Regions from separate parts of the Homo sapiens genome. Here region 2 is linked to region 1. The links come from fine-mapping of genetic effects on gene expression. Tissue or cell type: blood mononuclear cells. Region 1 holds a variant in brackets; the other region holds the start of a gene. All regions are shown on one strand. Distances are between the middles of the regions.

Region 1 (8,104 bases):
TCTCAAAACCCCCAAGCACACTCTTTTTACAGAAACTCCAAGAGAGTCGTGCGGAGCAGAGACTTCAGCGGCTGTGTCTCCCACAGACATCTAAAAACATTTCTCTCAAAGTGTCATATGGATAAAAACACCAAGCTTGAAAAATATTTTCATTTTAAAGGATCTCAACCAAAAAGAAGCAAGCATAAGACACAGATAGCACTTTGGCCTAGCCCAGTCCACGCCCTGTTCCTAGGCAGCCATCGAATACTTCTGATGACCTGGGAATTCATTTTTAACTATCTCAGCCATTTGTTCAGGGCCTGCAGGTGAAGAATAGATGAGAATAGTTAGGGACCAGGGCTTCAGAGAATGACTCAAAAAGAAGGACATCACCATGGCTCGGATTCAGGTCACACTCCTGTATCCAATCTCCCTTGCTAAAGAGGTCGTGCCCGCCTGGATGTGGGGCACAATCTTGAGTCAAGACTGCCACAGTCATGTCCACCAATTCTAGGAACAACCCAGTCCAAACCACTGCTAGACGTTCTCTCTTCCCATCCGTCACCCTTCCCAACAATTTAGAGCTGAAAGCTGCTCATACGTGTCAAGATTCAAGACTGCATCTTGCTATTCTGCTTTAGGAATTCAGTCTGCTAGGCACGGAGCCCAAACCATAGGAACAATACAACCAGAAAATTTCCAAATAGAGCTGAGAAGTTCATTCAGAAAACCAAACCCAGGTTATTCTAGACCAGCCAGATTAATTTCTATATATTTACTATAACTGCAATGGTTAACATTGAGTGCCTGTCACATACAGGACACTGAGCTGAGCATTTTGCACCTATTGTCTAATCCTCATGCCAACATTAGGAGGTAAACATCCTATTTTTACAGATGGGGATTCAAAGACATGGAGGACATTATGCCCAAGGTTATGGCTCCATAACTTAGAAAGACAACACTGCTATCTGAAACTTAAACCTGGCCAGGTACGGTGGCTCATGCCTGTAATACCAGCACTTTGGGAGGCTAAGGCGGGTGGATCGCCTGAGGTCAGGAGTTTGAGACCAACCTGGTCAACATGGCAAAACCCCATCTCTACTAAAAATACAAAAATTAGCTGGGCATGATGGTGGGCGCCTGTAATCTCGGCTATTCAGGAGGCTGAGGTAGGAGAATCGCTTGAACCCAGGAGGCAGAGGTTGCATTGAGCTGAGATAGTGCCACTGCACTCCAGCTTGGGTGACAAAAGCAAGACTCTGTCTCAAAAAATTTAATTAATTAATTAAACCTATCTTAAAATGATACTTAATCATGGTGTTATACAGTTGACATATGTTCACAAGAAGCACAGGCCAGACAAATTCCAGAATTCACACTTGATCATAACACTACAGTCAAAAATAAGAACAGGCCAGGCACAGAAGCTCATGCCTGTAATTTTAGCACTTTGGGAGGCTAAGGTGGGAAGATCACTTGAGCCCAGGAGTTCAAAGCCAGCCTGGGCAATACAGCAAAACCCTATCTCTACAAAAAAATACAAAAAAAGTAGTAGCCAGGTGTGGTGGCACACACCTGCAGTCCCAGCTACTCAGGAGGCTGAGGTGAGAGGATAACCTGAGCCCAGGAGGTCGAGGCTGCAGTGAGCTGTGATCACGTCACTGCACTCCAGCCTGGGTGACAGAGTGAGATCCTGTCTCAAATAAATAGGCCGGGTGCAGTGGCTCACGCCCATAATCCCAACACTTTGGGAGGCTGAGGCGGGCAGATCACCTGAGGTCAGCAGTTGGAGACCAGCCTGACCAACATGGTGAAACCCCATCTCTACTAAAAATACAAAAATTAGCCAGGCATGGTGGTGGGTGCCTGCAATCCCAACTACTCAGGAGGCTGAGGCAGGAGAATCGCTTGAACCTGGGAGGCAGAGGTTGCAGTGAGCCCAGATAGTGCCATCGCACTCCAGCCTGGATGACAGAGCGGGACTCTGTCTCAAAATAAATAAATAAATAAAAACAAAAAGATCATGCACACCCAATCAGAAAATACTAGTGATGTCTACCATTTGGGGGTTCTTCCCAATGTTAGCATGAAGTGGCTGTCAGGGGTTAGTAATGAGTGGTCGGTGATAACACATTCCACTTGTTATGATCACCTAGATTTGCCAGAGTTAGCAAATAAAAAGACATTTGGTTAAATGAGAATGTCAGATAAACAACAAATAATTTTTAGTATAAGTATGTTCTGTGCAGTATTCAAGCATACTTATACTAAAAATGTATGCATTGTTGGCCAGCCGTGGTGGCTCATGCCTGTAATCCCAAAACTTTGGGAGGCCGAGACAGGCAGATCACGAGGTCAGGAGATCAAGACCATCCTGGCTAACACGGTGAGACTCCGTCTCTACTGAAAATACAAAAAATTAGCCGGGTGTGGTGGCGGGCGCCTGTGGTCCCAGCTACTTGGGAGGCTGACCTATAGGAGAATGGCATGAACCCGGGAGGCGGAGCTTGCAGTGAGCTGAGATCATGCCACTGCACTCCAGCCTGGGTGACAGAGCAAGAGTCTGTCTCAAAAAAAAAAATAAAGTATGCATTGTTTATCTGAAATTCAAATTTAAAAGAGCATCCTATATTTTATCAGGAAACCCGATAAACAGCAAAGTCATAAAGTACTTTGGTTTATGGTTATGGCACACTACAACCAAGCCCTAAATTGCGGGGCCACAGTTTCCCAAGTACTTTAAAATCTTCTTACCCTTGATCCTCCCAGTATCCTGTGGCTCAGTAAAGTTATGTAACTTGCCCAAGCGACACACAGCAAGAGGGTGGCAGAGCTGGGACCCAGCACCGTGCTCCAGTTCTCCATCCACTCACCATCCCAAAAAAGATACATGGCGCCTCTTAAATGGGAGGGCAGATGTGTGACCACACTTGGCTTCAGAGTGCATGAGTGGAGGGAGAGCTATTATTTAAATCCAGCCGACGTTGCAAACTCTGAAACATCCCACTCTGAATATCCAGACATTCCTAGTAATATGTTCTTTACCCTTTTGATCCTTATGCCCTACTTAGAATTTTCTGCATTTGCTGGAATTCTGGATTAAGAATTCTGGCTACATTGGAACAACAGAATCTATTGTATCCTCCAGCCAAGCTCATTATCTTTGAGTAACAGCATCCCAGCTTTTGTTTGGAGAACATCCCTGCTTGGTCCACAGGGCTTGGAAGGGACTGATCTCGCTCCCTGGCTCCAGAACTGACCCATGACAACACCGCTCCCTTTTGACTCCAGGAGTAGAGAAATGAAGCACTCCTGGCTGGTGAATAGGATACCCCAGAAATTTGTTGGAGCCACTGAGAAATAATCACGCTCTTCCTACAAGCAAGGTGATAAAATGCAAGTGTGGCACTTCCAGTGGCCATTCTGCCACCGTAAGGAAAGGCTGTTTGGATGAAAGCAATCCAGAAAGAAAGCCAAACTGAGAGGTGTAGACAAGGCTTTGCTTTGTCAAGTACCTGGATCTAGCCACGCTGAAGCCAGTGCTACCCATAAACATCTCAGTCCCACAAGCCAAAGAACTCCCCATTTTTGTTGAACCAGTTTGAGATAAGTTTCTCACACTCGCAAACAAAGGGGCTCAGATGAATACAATCAGTGAATATCATCACATTTTCTATCAGTCAACAGGCAAGGTCAAAAACATCTGGAAATCCTGTTCACTCTAAGTTCTAAATATAACCAAAATCCAACCATGGCTCACCGGCCTGGTGCAAGCCACAGTCGTCTTCTTCTTCTATTTATATTTTAAATTTTTTTCTTTTTGAGACAGAGTCTTGCTCTGTCACCCAGGCTGGAGTGCAGTGGTACGAGCATGGCTCACTGCAGCCTTGAACTCCTGGGTTCAAGGGATCCTCCCACCTCAGCCTCCTGAGTAGCTGGAACCACAGGCATGCACCACCACACCCAGCTAATTTTTAAAAATTTTTTGTAGAGACAGGCTCTTGCTACCTTGCCCAGGCTGGTCTCAAACTCCTGGGTTCAAGTGATCCTCCTGCTTCAACCTCCCAAAGCGCTGGGATTACAGGTCTGAGCCACCTTGCCCTGCCTTCTTATTCTTCTTCTTTTTTCACACAGGGTCTTGTCTTGCTCTGTTGCCCAGGCTAGAGTGCAATGGCCCGATCACAGCTCACTGCAGCCTTGACCTCCTGGCTCGAGCAATCCTCCCTCCTCAGCCTCCCAAGTAGCTGGAATCATAGGCATGCACCACCACACCCTGCTTGCAGTCTTCTGACTCATCCACCTGCTTCTATTCAGGCCCCTAGAGTCTGTTCTCAACCAGTGACTAGAAAGATGCTGCTAAAACTGAAGTCAGATCCCACTCTTCCTCTGCTCAAAACCCTCCAATGTGTTCATTTCATGGGGTAAAATGTTTACACTGGTCTCAAAAGCTCTCATGGGCCGGGCATGGTGGTTCATGCCTGTAATCCCAGCACTTTTGGGAGGCCGAGGTGGGTGGATCATTTGAGGTCAGGAGTTCGAGACCAGCCCAGCCAACATGGTGAAACCCCACCTCTACTAAAAATACAAAAGTTAGCCGGTC[G/A]TAGTAGTGGGCGCCTGTGATCCTAGCTACTCAGGAGGCTGAGGCATAAGAATTGCTTGAACAGGGAGGTGGAGATTGCAGTGAGCCAAGATTGCGCTACTGCACTCCAGCCTGGGCAACAGTGTGAGACTCAGTCTCAAATAAATAAATAATAAATAAAGGCTCTCATGATCTGGTCCCACTCCACTCTGGTCACACAAGCTTCCTAGCTGTTCCTCAGACACCTCAGGGGCTTGGCACATGCGGTGGCCTCTCTCTGAGTGCTTTTCCCCCCAGAGGTCCCCGGGATCACTCCCTCAGTTCCTTTAAGTCTTTGCTCAAATGTCACCTTTTTCATGAAGCCTGCTCTGCTTTTTTCTTTTTTCCATAGTACTTGTCACCTTCTATCATCCTTGATAGCTTCCTTATTCCATTTATTGAACTTTTTTTTTTTGAGACAGGGTCTTTCTCTGTCACCCAGGCTGGAGTACAGTGGTGTGATCTCAGCTCACTGCAACTCTGCCTCCCAGGCTCAAGTGATCCTCCCACCTCAGCCTCCTGAGTAGTTGGGACCACGGGCAAGAGCCACCATGTCCAGCTAATTTTTCATAAAGATGATGTTTTGCCATGTTGCCCAGGCTAATCTTGAACTCCTGAGTTCAAGCGATCTGCCTGCCTTGACCTCCCAAAGTGCTAGGATTACAGGCATGAGCCACCACACCAGGCCTAAATTATTTTATTTTTAAGACACGGTCTCAATCTGTTGCCCACGCTGGAATGCAATGGCACAAGCATGGCTCACTGCAGCTGCAAATTCCTGTGCTCATGTGATCCTCCCACCTCGGCCTCCAGAGTAGCTGGGACTACAGGTGCACACCACCATGCCTGGCTACTTTATCATTATTATTATTTTATTATTATTATTATTATTATTAGTAGTAGTAGTAGTAGTAGTAGTAGTAGTAGTAGTAGTAGAGACAGGGTCTCGCTTTGTTGCTCAGGCTGGTCTTGAACTCCTGAGAGATGGTCCCATCTTGGCCTCCCAAAATGCTGGGATTAGAGGCATGAGCCGCTGTGCCTGGCCAGCTTCCCTATTCAGTGACTGTGAAAACAGCTTTTATTTGTTTGTTGTCTGTCTCCCCCACCTAGAATGTGAGCTACAAGAGCACAGGGCTCTTAGCCTGTTTTGCTCTCAGACATATATCCCTAGCACCTAGAACATTGCACGGCACATGGCAGGTGCCCCATACTGGGAAACCATAAGCTGGGATGAAGCTGACCCAGGAAAAAGGAAACAGGTCTGAAAAACAGAAGGGTGGTGTCTGGGAGACTAGACAAACATGAGCCAGAGCCCAGAGGGTGCCCAGGGACGCCTCCTCCATCTGCCCCCAGCCTCAAGGTGGTATCTGGGCTCAGCCCACCCTCTCCCCTCTTGGTTCCACCTTACTGAAGACCCCAGCTACCGTCTTAGCAGACAACTAGGGGCAACCGGCTGCAAGGAAATGTGATTATACACATATGACTAAATAGTAGCGGGGGAAAGTTCTCCTCTTAATCTGAGTTAATTTAAGACTGCTCTTATTATAGTTAATCTGATCAAACAATGACCAGCTTCTCAGACCTGTAGCATGCTACCAATGAATTTTTCATAACTCTGCAGAGACATTTTCTGCCCTGCTGTTAATCATAAACCACAAAGCAGGAGATTTCAAATGTATTTCCGTTTCACCACCTCTTTTCTCCTGGCTTTATTTCCCCTCCCTCCACCCTACCCTTCTCAAGATCTTGCCCATCTATTATTATTATTATTACTATTATTATCATTATGAAGTGGCTTGTGTTTGTTCTGGTGTTAAAGAACCTGCCTCTACCTTAGGGGACCAATAAATTAATGTTATACTTTCAAATCATATTTGAGAAGTGGAGATCATATATTAGAGAGTTTGATTCAATTTGGCAAATGAGACTGCCTTATTTTCCTATAATAAGGAGATGAGGCAGGAAGGAGACGCAAAGGAACCCAGTTTAAAGACAGGAAAATATGTGGTCCTATCCCTTTGTCTCCAGATGAGCCTGAGCCAGGCACAGTGGCTCACCCCTGTAATCCCAGCACTTTGGGAGGCTGAGGCGGGTGGATCACTTGAGGTCAGGAGTTCGAGACCAGCCTGGGCAACATGGAGAAACCCCCATCTCTACTAAAAATACAAAAAAAAAAAAAAATTAGCCAGGCGTGGCAGTGCACGCCTGTAATCCCAGCTACTCGGGAGGCTGAGGCAGGAGAATCTCTTGAACCAGGAAGCAGAGGTTGCAGTGAGCCAAGACAGTGCCACTGCACTCCAGCCTGAGCAACAAAGACAGACTCTGTCTCAAGAAAAAAAAAAAAAAAAAAAAAGCCTGAAACATATTAGACTCCTCCCATGTTGGACTTCATTTGGTTCCTCAAATGCCCCATGCTATCTCCTAACTCTTGGCATTTGTGCATACTGTTCCTGCTGCTTGGAACACCCTTTCCTCGTCTCTAGCTAATGCTGTCATCCTTCAGGTCTTCGCTTTAGCATCACGTCACCAGATCCACGACGTGAAGGCATGTATTCTGTGTCCCAGTACCCAGCACGGTGCCTGACGTGCAACACATATTTGTACATCATTATTTCCACACATGCCAGACTGACATTTGTGTATCTAATGCATTTAACGTAAAGTGGAATAAATGAAGGACTGAATGAATGCTGAGCTCAACAACCAGCTTGCCTTTCAAAGCAGACATCATAGGCCAGGTGTGGGGGCTCATGCCTGTAATCCCAGCACTTTGAGAGACAGAGGTGGGAGGATCGCTTGAGTCCAGAGGTTCGAGATCAGCCTAGGCAACATAGAGAGACCTCATTTCTACAAAAAATTTAAAAATATGTAACTAACCTGCACATTGTGCACATGTACCCTAAAACTTAAAGTATAATAATAATAAATAAATAAATAAATAAATAAAGGCAAAAAAAAAAATTAACCGGGCATGGTGGTGTACCCCAATAGTCCTAACTACTCAGGAGGCTGAGGCAGGAAGATCACTTGAGCCCAAGAGTTCAAGGCTGCAGTGAGCCCATAATCATGCCACTGCACCCCAGCCTAGGCAACAGAGCAAAACTGTCTCTAAACAAACAAACAAAAATAACCACCAAGTAGACATTATAAATGGCTGAATTCTTATCCCAACACCAAAGCTATGACGCTGCTTCTTGAGTTCCCTTTCAGATACCGTGTCCAGAACATTATCGTGATCATCATCAATGGCAGCACATCTTGTTAAGAGTGGACTGGACTATTTATGCATTTTAAATGAACAAAAATCACTGGGAATCAGTCAAGCAGACACAGTAAATGCTACCATCTGGGGTCAAAAAAAAAAAAAGGAAAGTAAATAGACTTGTTTTCCTGTAAAGTGACTGAAGACAGCGTGTAAGAATATTTTAAGTACTGTCAGCAGAGCTAGGGCAAGGCAGATATAATCACAGTGACGACTTCAATAAATACAGTCCTCTTTTG
Region 2 (8,101 bases), 130 kb after region 1:
ATTTGATCGCCATCTGTCTCCCCTCCACTAGGATATCAACTCCAGGGAGCAAGAACTTTGTATATTTATCCCCAGAGCTGGCAGAGTTCCTGGTGGAGGGCAGGCAGTGAGTAAATATTTGTCTAATAAATACATATGGTATAACTCTTTAAACAAAAAAGTAACATAAAGCTGGCCAGGCATGGTAGCTCATGCTTGTAATCCCAACACTTTGGGAGGCCGAGGCAGGCAGGTCACTTGGGGCCAGGAGTTCAAGACCAGCCTGGCCAACGTGGTGAAACCCCGTCTCTACTTAAAATACAAAAATTAGCCGGGCATAGTGGCGGGCGCCTGTAGTCGCAGCTACTCGGGAGGCTGAGGCAGGAGAATCACTTGAACCCGGGAGGTGCAGGTTGCAGTGAGCCAAGATTGCACCACTGTACTCCAGCCTGGGTGACAGAGCAAGACTCTGTCCCCAAAAAATAAAAAATAAATAAAGCCCCTTAAACTCTGATGATGCTTATGCCAAACATTTCACATGAAATGCTTCTTAAACACAAGCCCTACTCAGAATTCACACTCTATTTCTGTGATTTAGGGATTTAATCTCTTGCTATTTCAGGTTCAGGAATCCAGGAGCTAAAAGAAGAACAAACCCAGTGACTCCTGTCTCTTGGAGTCTGGGCCCAAACTAAACTTGGCTACACGGAGAGAAAGCCCTAATTAGTGCAGAACTTAAAAACAAAACAAACAAACAAAAACAGAGCTGGGGGTGGGGTATCTAGCTTCAACTGGTATGGTACTTGTAGATCCTTCTTGGTGAAAAGGCCTATGAATCAGGGTTTCTTTGTTTTCTCCTTTTTTTTTTGAGACAGAGTCTCACTCTGCTGCCCAGGCTGGAGTGCAGTGGCGCCATCTCGGCTCATTGCAACCTCCGCCCCCTGGGTTCAAGTGATTCTCCTGCCTCAGCCTCCCGAGTAGCTAGAATTACAGGCATGCGCCACCACACCTGGCTAATTTTTGTATTTTTAGTAGAGATGGGGTTTCACCATTTTGGCCAGGCTGGTCTCGAACTCCTGACCTCAGGTGATCTGCCCACCTCGGCCTCCCAAAGTGCTGGGATTGCAGGCGTGAGTCACCGCGTCCAGCCTCTTCTTTTTTAAACTGATAAATAAAAATTGTATATATTATGGAATATAACATGTTTTGATATATGTATACATTGTGGAATGGCTCAGTCAAGCTCATTACCATATATGCATTACCTCACATACTTATTTTTGTGTGGTGAGAACACTTAAAATCTACTCTTAGCAAATTTCAAGTATATCATATTCATATATATATTTGGGTTTTTTTTTTTTTTGAGACCCAGGCTGGGGTGCAGTGGCTGAATCACAGCTCACTGCAGCCTCAATCTCCCACCCAGATTCAAGTGATCCTCCCGCCTCAGCCTCCTGTGTATCGGGCTACGGGGGCGTACCACCACACTCAGCATTTTTTTTTTTTTTAAATTAAATTTTTAGTAGAGATGGGGGTCTGGCTATGTTGACCAAGCTGGTTTTGATCTCCTGAGCTCAAGCGATTCTCCTGCAGGCATGAGCCATTGCACCTGGCCCTGGATCAGGGTGTTCTAATTAAACAATGGGATGTGTTTGGACAATCAGGCTGAATGGAAAGGTATATATTATAAGCCTCTTCTAGGCAAAGCAGTTAGCCTTAACACAGAGATGAAAGCTATGACCCCAGCCAGCAGGAAGCTAGGTGATTTTTCCTGTATCAGGACATGTACATTAGATATTCCACCGGCCTCAAAAGCTTTCCTCAGTTGCTCCATCTTATCATTCAGGGATTGGTCCTCATGTCACCTTCTCAGAGACCATCCTGGCCTCACTATCTAAAGCGACCATACACTTTCCTTTTTTATTTTTTATTTTTTTTGAGACAGGGTCTTGCTCTGTTGCCCAGGCTGGAATGCAGTAGCACCATCACGGCTCACTGCAACCTCGACCTCCCCAGGCTCAGATGATCCTCCCATCTCAGCCTCCCCAGTAGCTGGGACTACAGGCACATTCTACCATGCACGCGCCTATAGTTCGGTATTTTTTGCAGAGATGGGGTTTTGCCATGCTGCCTAGACTGGTCTCAAACTCCTGAGCTCAAGTGATCTACCCAAGTTGGCCTCCCAAACTGCTGGGCCACTGCGCCTGGCACCATTCACTTTCCTTTAACCATTTGATTTTCTTTATAACCATCACTTAGATATTTTCTTCTTCTTTTTTTTTTTTTGAGATGGAGTTTCACTCTTGTTGCCCAGGCTGGAGTGCAATGGCGAGATCTTGGTTCACTGCAACCTCCACCTCTCCAGTTCAAGCGGTTCTCCTGCCTCAGCCTCCTGAGTAGCTGGGATTACAGGTATGCACCACCACGCCTGGTTAATTTTGTATTTTTAGTAGAGACGGAGTTTCATTATGTTGGTGAGGCTGGTCTCGAACTCCTGGCCTCAAGTGATCTGCCCGCCTCAGCCTCCCAAAGTGCTGAGATTACAGACGTGAGCCACCCCGGCGCATTTGGTTGATATTTTCTTGATTGCCTGTCATTTTTACGTATTTATTGTCTGTCTCTTTCTGAACCCACCCAAACTTGCCAGTTCACTGCTATTGGGCTACACTGTCTAATAGGGAAATCACATGTGGTTACCAACCACTTGAAATGTGGCAAGTCAGAATTCAGATGGGCTGTAAGTAAAAAATACACAACACGTTTTGAACACTTAGCACAAAAAAAAATCTAAAACATTACATTACAATTTATTTGATTACATGTAGCAGGAATATTTTAGACATGTTGTATTGAAAGAGTTTTTAAATTGTCACCTAGTTCTTTTTTCTTTTTTTTAATGTGGCTACTTGAACATTTTAAATTACATACGTGGCTCACATTAGACTTCTGTTGGTCGGGGCTGGCCTAGAGGGTGCCTGGCACATAGTAGACGTTCAACAAATATTTGCTGAATGAATAAGTGAAGTCTAACCATTGCTCTGAAGATTTCAACTGTTGCCCATTGTATTTCCTTTACAATGGGCTTTATTCCATTTGAAAATAAGTTAAAACTCTGGCCTTTTTTGTACAGTAACTTGGCAGCTCTCAACAACCCTGCCCACACCCTCAAAACGAAGTTGTCAATCTTTAGGAAAACCCCAGAACTGGAAACAGATTTCTGTTAAAAAGGCAGGCTAGCTACAGATTGCTTTCAGATTGAACTGTAAGGAGGCAATGGAAATCAAACGGAAGCTATAAAAAGATTCACATAGGATCTACACAAACAGTAGGGGCCCTTTTAAAAAGAATTCTACGGGTAACACTCACTGAAAAGAAAGCCCTTATCTAGATGGGAAGGAGAGAGAGCTGCCTTTAACTCAATGCCTGACTTCAGCAAACAAAGAAATGTCATTTCCTAAATTAAAAAGTAACACCACCCCAGGGAATACCCAGATTTCAACCTTCCCACCCACAGTAACAAGCCATCAGCAATCAGAACCCTCCAGACCAGGATGAAGCTTGAACTTGGCTGCAAGATTACCATGAAGTTCTGGAACAAATTCTGAGCCCTAGGCCTTGAACCTGCTCTGAAAATTTCTCCTAAGGAAATTACATTTAAACTCGGGTCCTTCAAGACCTGGGACTCCCGGAATCAATTCTAAATCTATCCCAAGTGGGGTTCCGAGGGAAGGTCGTTGGAGGGGAGAGGGCCAAGGCGTGCATGCGTCTTGGGGTTTTTTTCCCCTTGCATAAGAGACACACCTTTCCCACTGAGATTTTATGTTCATCTGGGCTGGCTTGAGGTATATCCAATATCCTCTGACTTCCACGCTGTCTTCTGATGGGGATGGCAGTTAACAAGAATAGAGGCAAGGTCCCCACCCATCAGTGTATCCTAAATTTGCCTGATCATACATGTCACCAGGGATCAGCGTCTCCAGTCCCGCCCCACCTCCACTGACTTAATCTCCAGTGGGAGAGGCTGGGAATAGATTGTTTCAATAGGGAACCCAGACCCCAGACCCCATTTTTACCGGGTCCCAGCCACCCTCCGAGGAAGGTACTAGGATTATCCCATTTTGCAGATCAAAACTGAGACGTGGGTGGCGGTGGTTCAGTGGCTTGTCCACTGTCACGATCACACAGCTTGTGAGGGACAGAGGTGACTCCCATCCAGACATGCAAGTGCGTCCCCTGGCACCTGGGTACCCAGGGGCACCCACCCCCTTGGGGATCTCCGTTTTAGGGCTTGGTGCCCCCCGCCCCGAGTCCCACCCGGGAGCCCCCTCTGTCCCGGTCGGGGGATCTCCTCCCGCAGAAGCCCGATCTTCCCGATCCTGTCGCCGGCGGGAGTCAGGGTGGCGGCCACTGACAACGAAAGTGAAACAAAGCTGGTCGCCGGGCGCGCACCCCCGCCGGCCCCGCGCGGACCTCCCAGGCCGGACGCCCCCGCCGCGTCCAGCCCCCGCCCCACCCCGCCCAGCCCGCCCCGGGGTCGCCTCCCCCCTCCCCGGGGAGAACGGGCCAGGGCCCCGCCGGGCGGGAACGGGCGCGCCCGGCCCCACTCACCTCCGGCCTCCATGGAGGACGCGAGCGGCCCCCGCGGCAGGCGGCGGGCGCCTCAGCCCCCCGGGCCGCGGGCCCTCATGCCGCCCCCGCGCCGCCCGCCCCGGCCAGGCCGCCGCCGCCGCCCGGAGAGGCCATCAGCTGCTTCCCGTCACATGGCGGTGGGCGCGGGCGGAGACGCGCGGGGGCGGGGCGCAGGGGAAACGGAGGGGGGGTGCGGACGGGATAAAAACGGTGGGGGGCAGCTGAGGGAAAAGATGGAAAATCGGGGAGGCGGTACGCTGACGGGATAAAAGCTGAGGGGTTGCTCAGGGGAAACGGGGGCGGGGAAGACGCGCGAACCAGATAAAAATGGGGCAGGGGTGGGGGGAGCTGAGCGGAAACGGGGTGGGGCGCGAACGGGATAAAACCCAGGGGTTGTGCGGGGTCCTGAGGGGAACCAGCGCCGGATAAAAACGGGGAAGGGAGGGAGGTGAACAGAGCTGAGGGAAACCGGGAAAAGGGGAGCGATAGAAACCGGAGTAGGGGAAGCCGGGCTCAGGGGAAAAGGGGGTGTTGGAGAGTGGTAGAGCCGGGCTGAGAGAAAAACCAAGCAGGGGAAGCGGCGATCCGGGGAGAACGGAGAGAGGGAGACCGAGGGCTGTGGGGGTAAGGGGAACCAAAGGGGCTGAAGCGAAATCGAGGGGAGGGGCAGGTGAAAATGGAGCCATGCGAAGGCCGATGAGGGGGGAAACGGGTAAAAATGGGGGCGGGAGAAATAGGTTGGAGGGAATACTGGCCGAGAAGAAACCTGGGGAGAGCTGGGCTTAGGGGAAAATGGGGAGGGGGTGGAAGGAAGGTGTAATAACCGGGTGCTGGGGAGGACGTAAGAATTGGGGGGTGCGGCGAGGGTCAAGGCTAGGGTAAAACAAGGGGGGCTACTCAATGGCTCCGGTAATGGGAGAGGGAAGTGAGGAGAACACGGGGCGGTGGGGAGAGGAGGGCAGGGTGAAAACCGGAGTGGGGGTGGGAACGAGATAAAAAACGGGGCAGGAGCGATTCGGAAGAAGACTGTCCCCTTACCTACCTACGGCGACAGCCTCGCCTGTCCCCGTCCCCCTGAGAAACCTGCTCTCCCTGTCTACCCGCATAGCCTCAAGAAATGGCTCGCTTGGGTCAGACGCCCCCTTTTTAACATTCCAGGGCCAGGGCAGGAGTCATCATGGAGGCTTTTCATGCCTGAAAGACCCCATTTCTTAGTTGTCCGGTCCCCAGTAGTATCAGTGGCTTGGGGATTTCTTACTGAGCTCAGCTCATTGTCCCCAAAATGCCTCCCCTTACCCCCAACTCGAGCGCTTCCCTTTCCTGCTTTGGGCCCAAGCTCTTCCCGCGGTTCTTGGTGTCAGCTTCATTCAAGTCACTCTCCCGCCTCTCATTCCTTTCTCCCCGCCTTTCTTCGCTTCCCTCCAAGTGCCCTCTCCATTTGCCGGTCACTGGTCCCAGAGCTCCGGATCGCAGTGGTTCCATTTTAAATTTCTTTGCTTCCTAACGCAACCTATGTTTTCTACGGTAACTGAGGTTCCCGTGTTCTTTTTCACCATGGTCTCTCCGTTTTAATGTTTCGGGTTTTTTTACCCAGGCCCCTGTTTTATGAGCCCTGGGTACGTCCTTCCTGTGTCCCGTTTGGCCTCCTGGGTTACACTCCTGTTCACCCCGCTTGGCCGGTTTTTTTTTTTCTTTTCTTTGAACCTGCCGGTTTCTCAGTCTCCCCCTTTTCCGCTGGCTACCTGTCCCTTTCTCGCCGCCCATGTTAACTTTAGCATGCCCCGTTCTCTCTCTTCATTTTCCACTGGGTATTTTTTATGTTTCCCAATTTTAAAAACGGCCCAGCGCACCCCTTTTTTTGGGACTCCACTTTTATCTCTGGCACCAGTGTCGGCCTCCTCCACCTCTGCTCCCATTTAATCGCTAATTTCCTGCCTCCTGAGGACCCCCGTTTTATTGTCCAGGCTCCCCCCTCCCATTTTTCTCTTCTCTAATTTTCTGAGTCTCCATTTTTTGTCTCCCAAATTCCTTCGATTCCTGGAGTCTTACAGGCCTCGTTTTTATGTACACGTCATGGAAAAGAATAAAAGGGTAAGGTCGCGGGGCGCGATGGCTCATGCCTGTAATCCCAGCACTTTGGGAGGCCAAGGCGGGCAGATCACCTGAGGTCAGGAGTTCGAGACCAGCCTGGCCGATATGGCCAAACCCAATCTCTACTAAAAATACAAAAATTAGCTGGGTGTGGTGGCGGGCACCTGTAAACCCGGCTACTCGGGAGACTGAGGCAGGAGAATCACTTGAACCCAGGAGGTGGAGGTTGCAGTGAGCTGAGATCTTGCCATTGCACACCAGCCTGGGTGATGGAGGCTCCGTCTGGAGGAAAAAAAAAAAAAAAAAACAAAAAAGGCGGGGCTGAGGTGAGAAGAATATTGTTACCAATTTTTAAAAAGCTAGTAAAAAAAATTTTTTTTGGCAAGTTCGTTTTTCCAAGTCTTTCAATTTACTAACCAGGTCTCAATCAAGATCACAAAAGCACTTACTTAAAAATAGCTTTATTCCATTATCTTTTAAAAAAGGCATATGATAACCTCAGAACTAATTTCTCCCAACCTCCCCCCACCACATCTTAAAATGTAAATAATGGAGAAGGAGCTGCTTATTTTTCTTTGCAGCAGTTCCTGGCCAGTCCCAACGTGAGAAATATCAGTTGGCACTTATTGCATCATAATACATTTTGCCTAGTAAGGATGATTTTCTAAGTCTCAGTGCATGGGTTATTGCAATTTTCCATCTTGTGTTTTCCTGCGGCAATTATGGGGCTTGTATGTGCTTGTGAGAATTGGGGCTAATATCAAAGCCACAGAATTGTGGAGGCCCCCTTCCCAGGCTCCACCAGGGTTTGAGAAAAACAAGAAAAAAGTCAGTTGCAATGGACCTGAAGTGTGTATCTTCCTGGTCCTGATAAATAGATCTCATGGTCTCTAAGTTAACAATACATGCAGATAAGATTTTTTTTAAAGCACAGTGTAACAACTTGGACTTTGCCACACAAACTGTAATCCACTGTCAACAAGCTTGTGGATTTGGGCATGGATCGTCTTAAAGAAGCCCGAATTCTTCAAAAAATCCTTAAAACTTGAAGACCTGGATTTTACCTGACCCAGGATATTACTGTGCACACAGGACTCAGATATGTGACAGCAGTCACAGCTCAGCTGGTCAAAGGTTTATAGTGTTTGACACCAGGACCATGAAGCTCCCATTTGGTAGTGGAAAAACCCTCAAATATTTCCTATCAACAGATGTGTGTGCTAGAGAAGAGGAAGTTGTGGAAAATATCCCAGTGATCCTACAAAACATTCTCTGTGTTCCTAGCTAGGGTTTTTTTTTTTTTTCACCTCAACAGTTTTTGTGTTTTCTTTTTTTAATCTTGTTGCCTCTGAGTAGTAGACTCTTCAATTCTGGAATTTGGTTGCCGAAGACTCTAAAG

Evidence for each region. PIP is the estimated chance that this variant, and not a neighbour inherited with it, causes the effect.
Region 2: it holds the start of WSB2, and the variant in region 1 is fine-mapped to the expression of WSB2 in blood mononuclear cells (TOPMed, PIP above 0.99). The same link has a PIP of 0.9 or more in whole blood.

The regions. Positions count from the first base shown.
Region 1 is chr12:117,931,037-117,939,140 of GRCh38, forward strand. The region is part of intron 1 of KSR2 (kinase suppressor of ras 2); the gene reads right to left. Among named protein-coding and RNA genes, the nearest start is that of KSR2, 34 kb to the right of the region's middle. The variant G/A (reference allele first, on the strand shown) is at 4,586.
Region 2 is chr12:118,056,446-118,064,546 of GRCh38, forward strand. It overlaps WSB2 (WD repeat and SOCS box containing 2), which reads right to left and starts at 4,734. Exons shown (of 9, transcript NM_018639.5): 1 at 4,591-4,734. The coding sequence starts at 4,603. VSIG10 (V-set and immunoglobulin domain containing 10) reads right to left here. Exons shown (of 9, transcript NM_019086.6): 9 at 7,148-8,101. LOC124903030 (a long non-coding RNA gene) reads left to right here and starts at 5,015. Exons shown (of 2, transcript XR_007063479.1): 1 at 5,015-5,235. RefSeq lists a silencer at 4,144-4,193.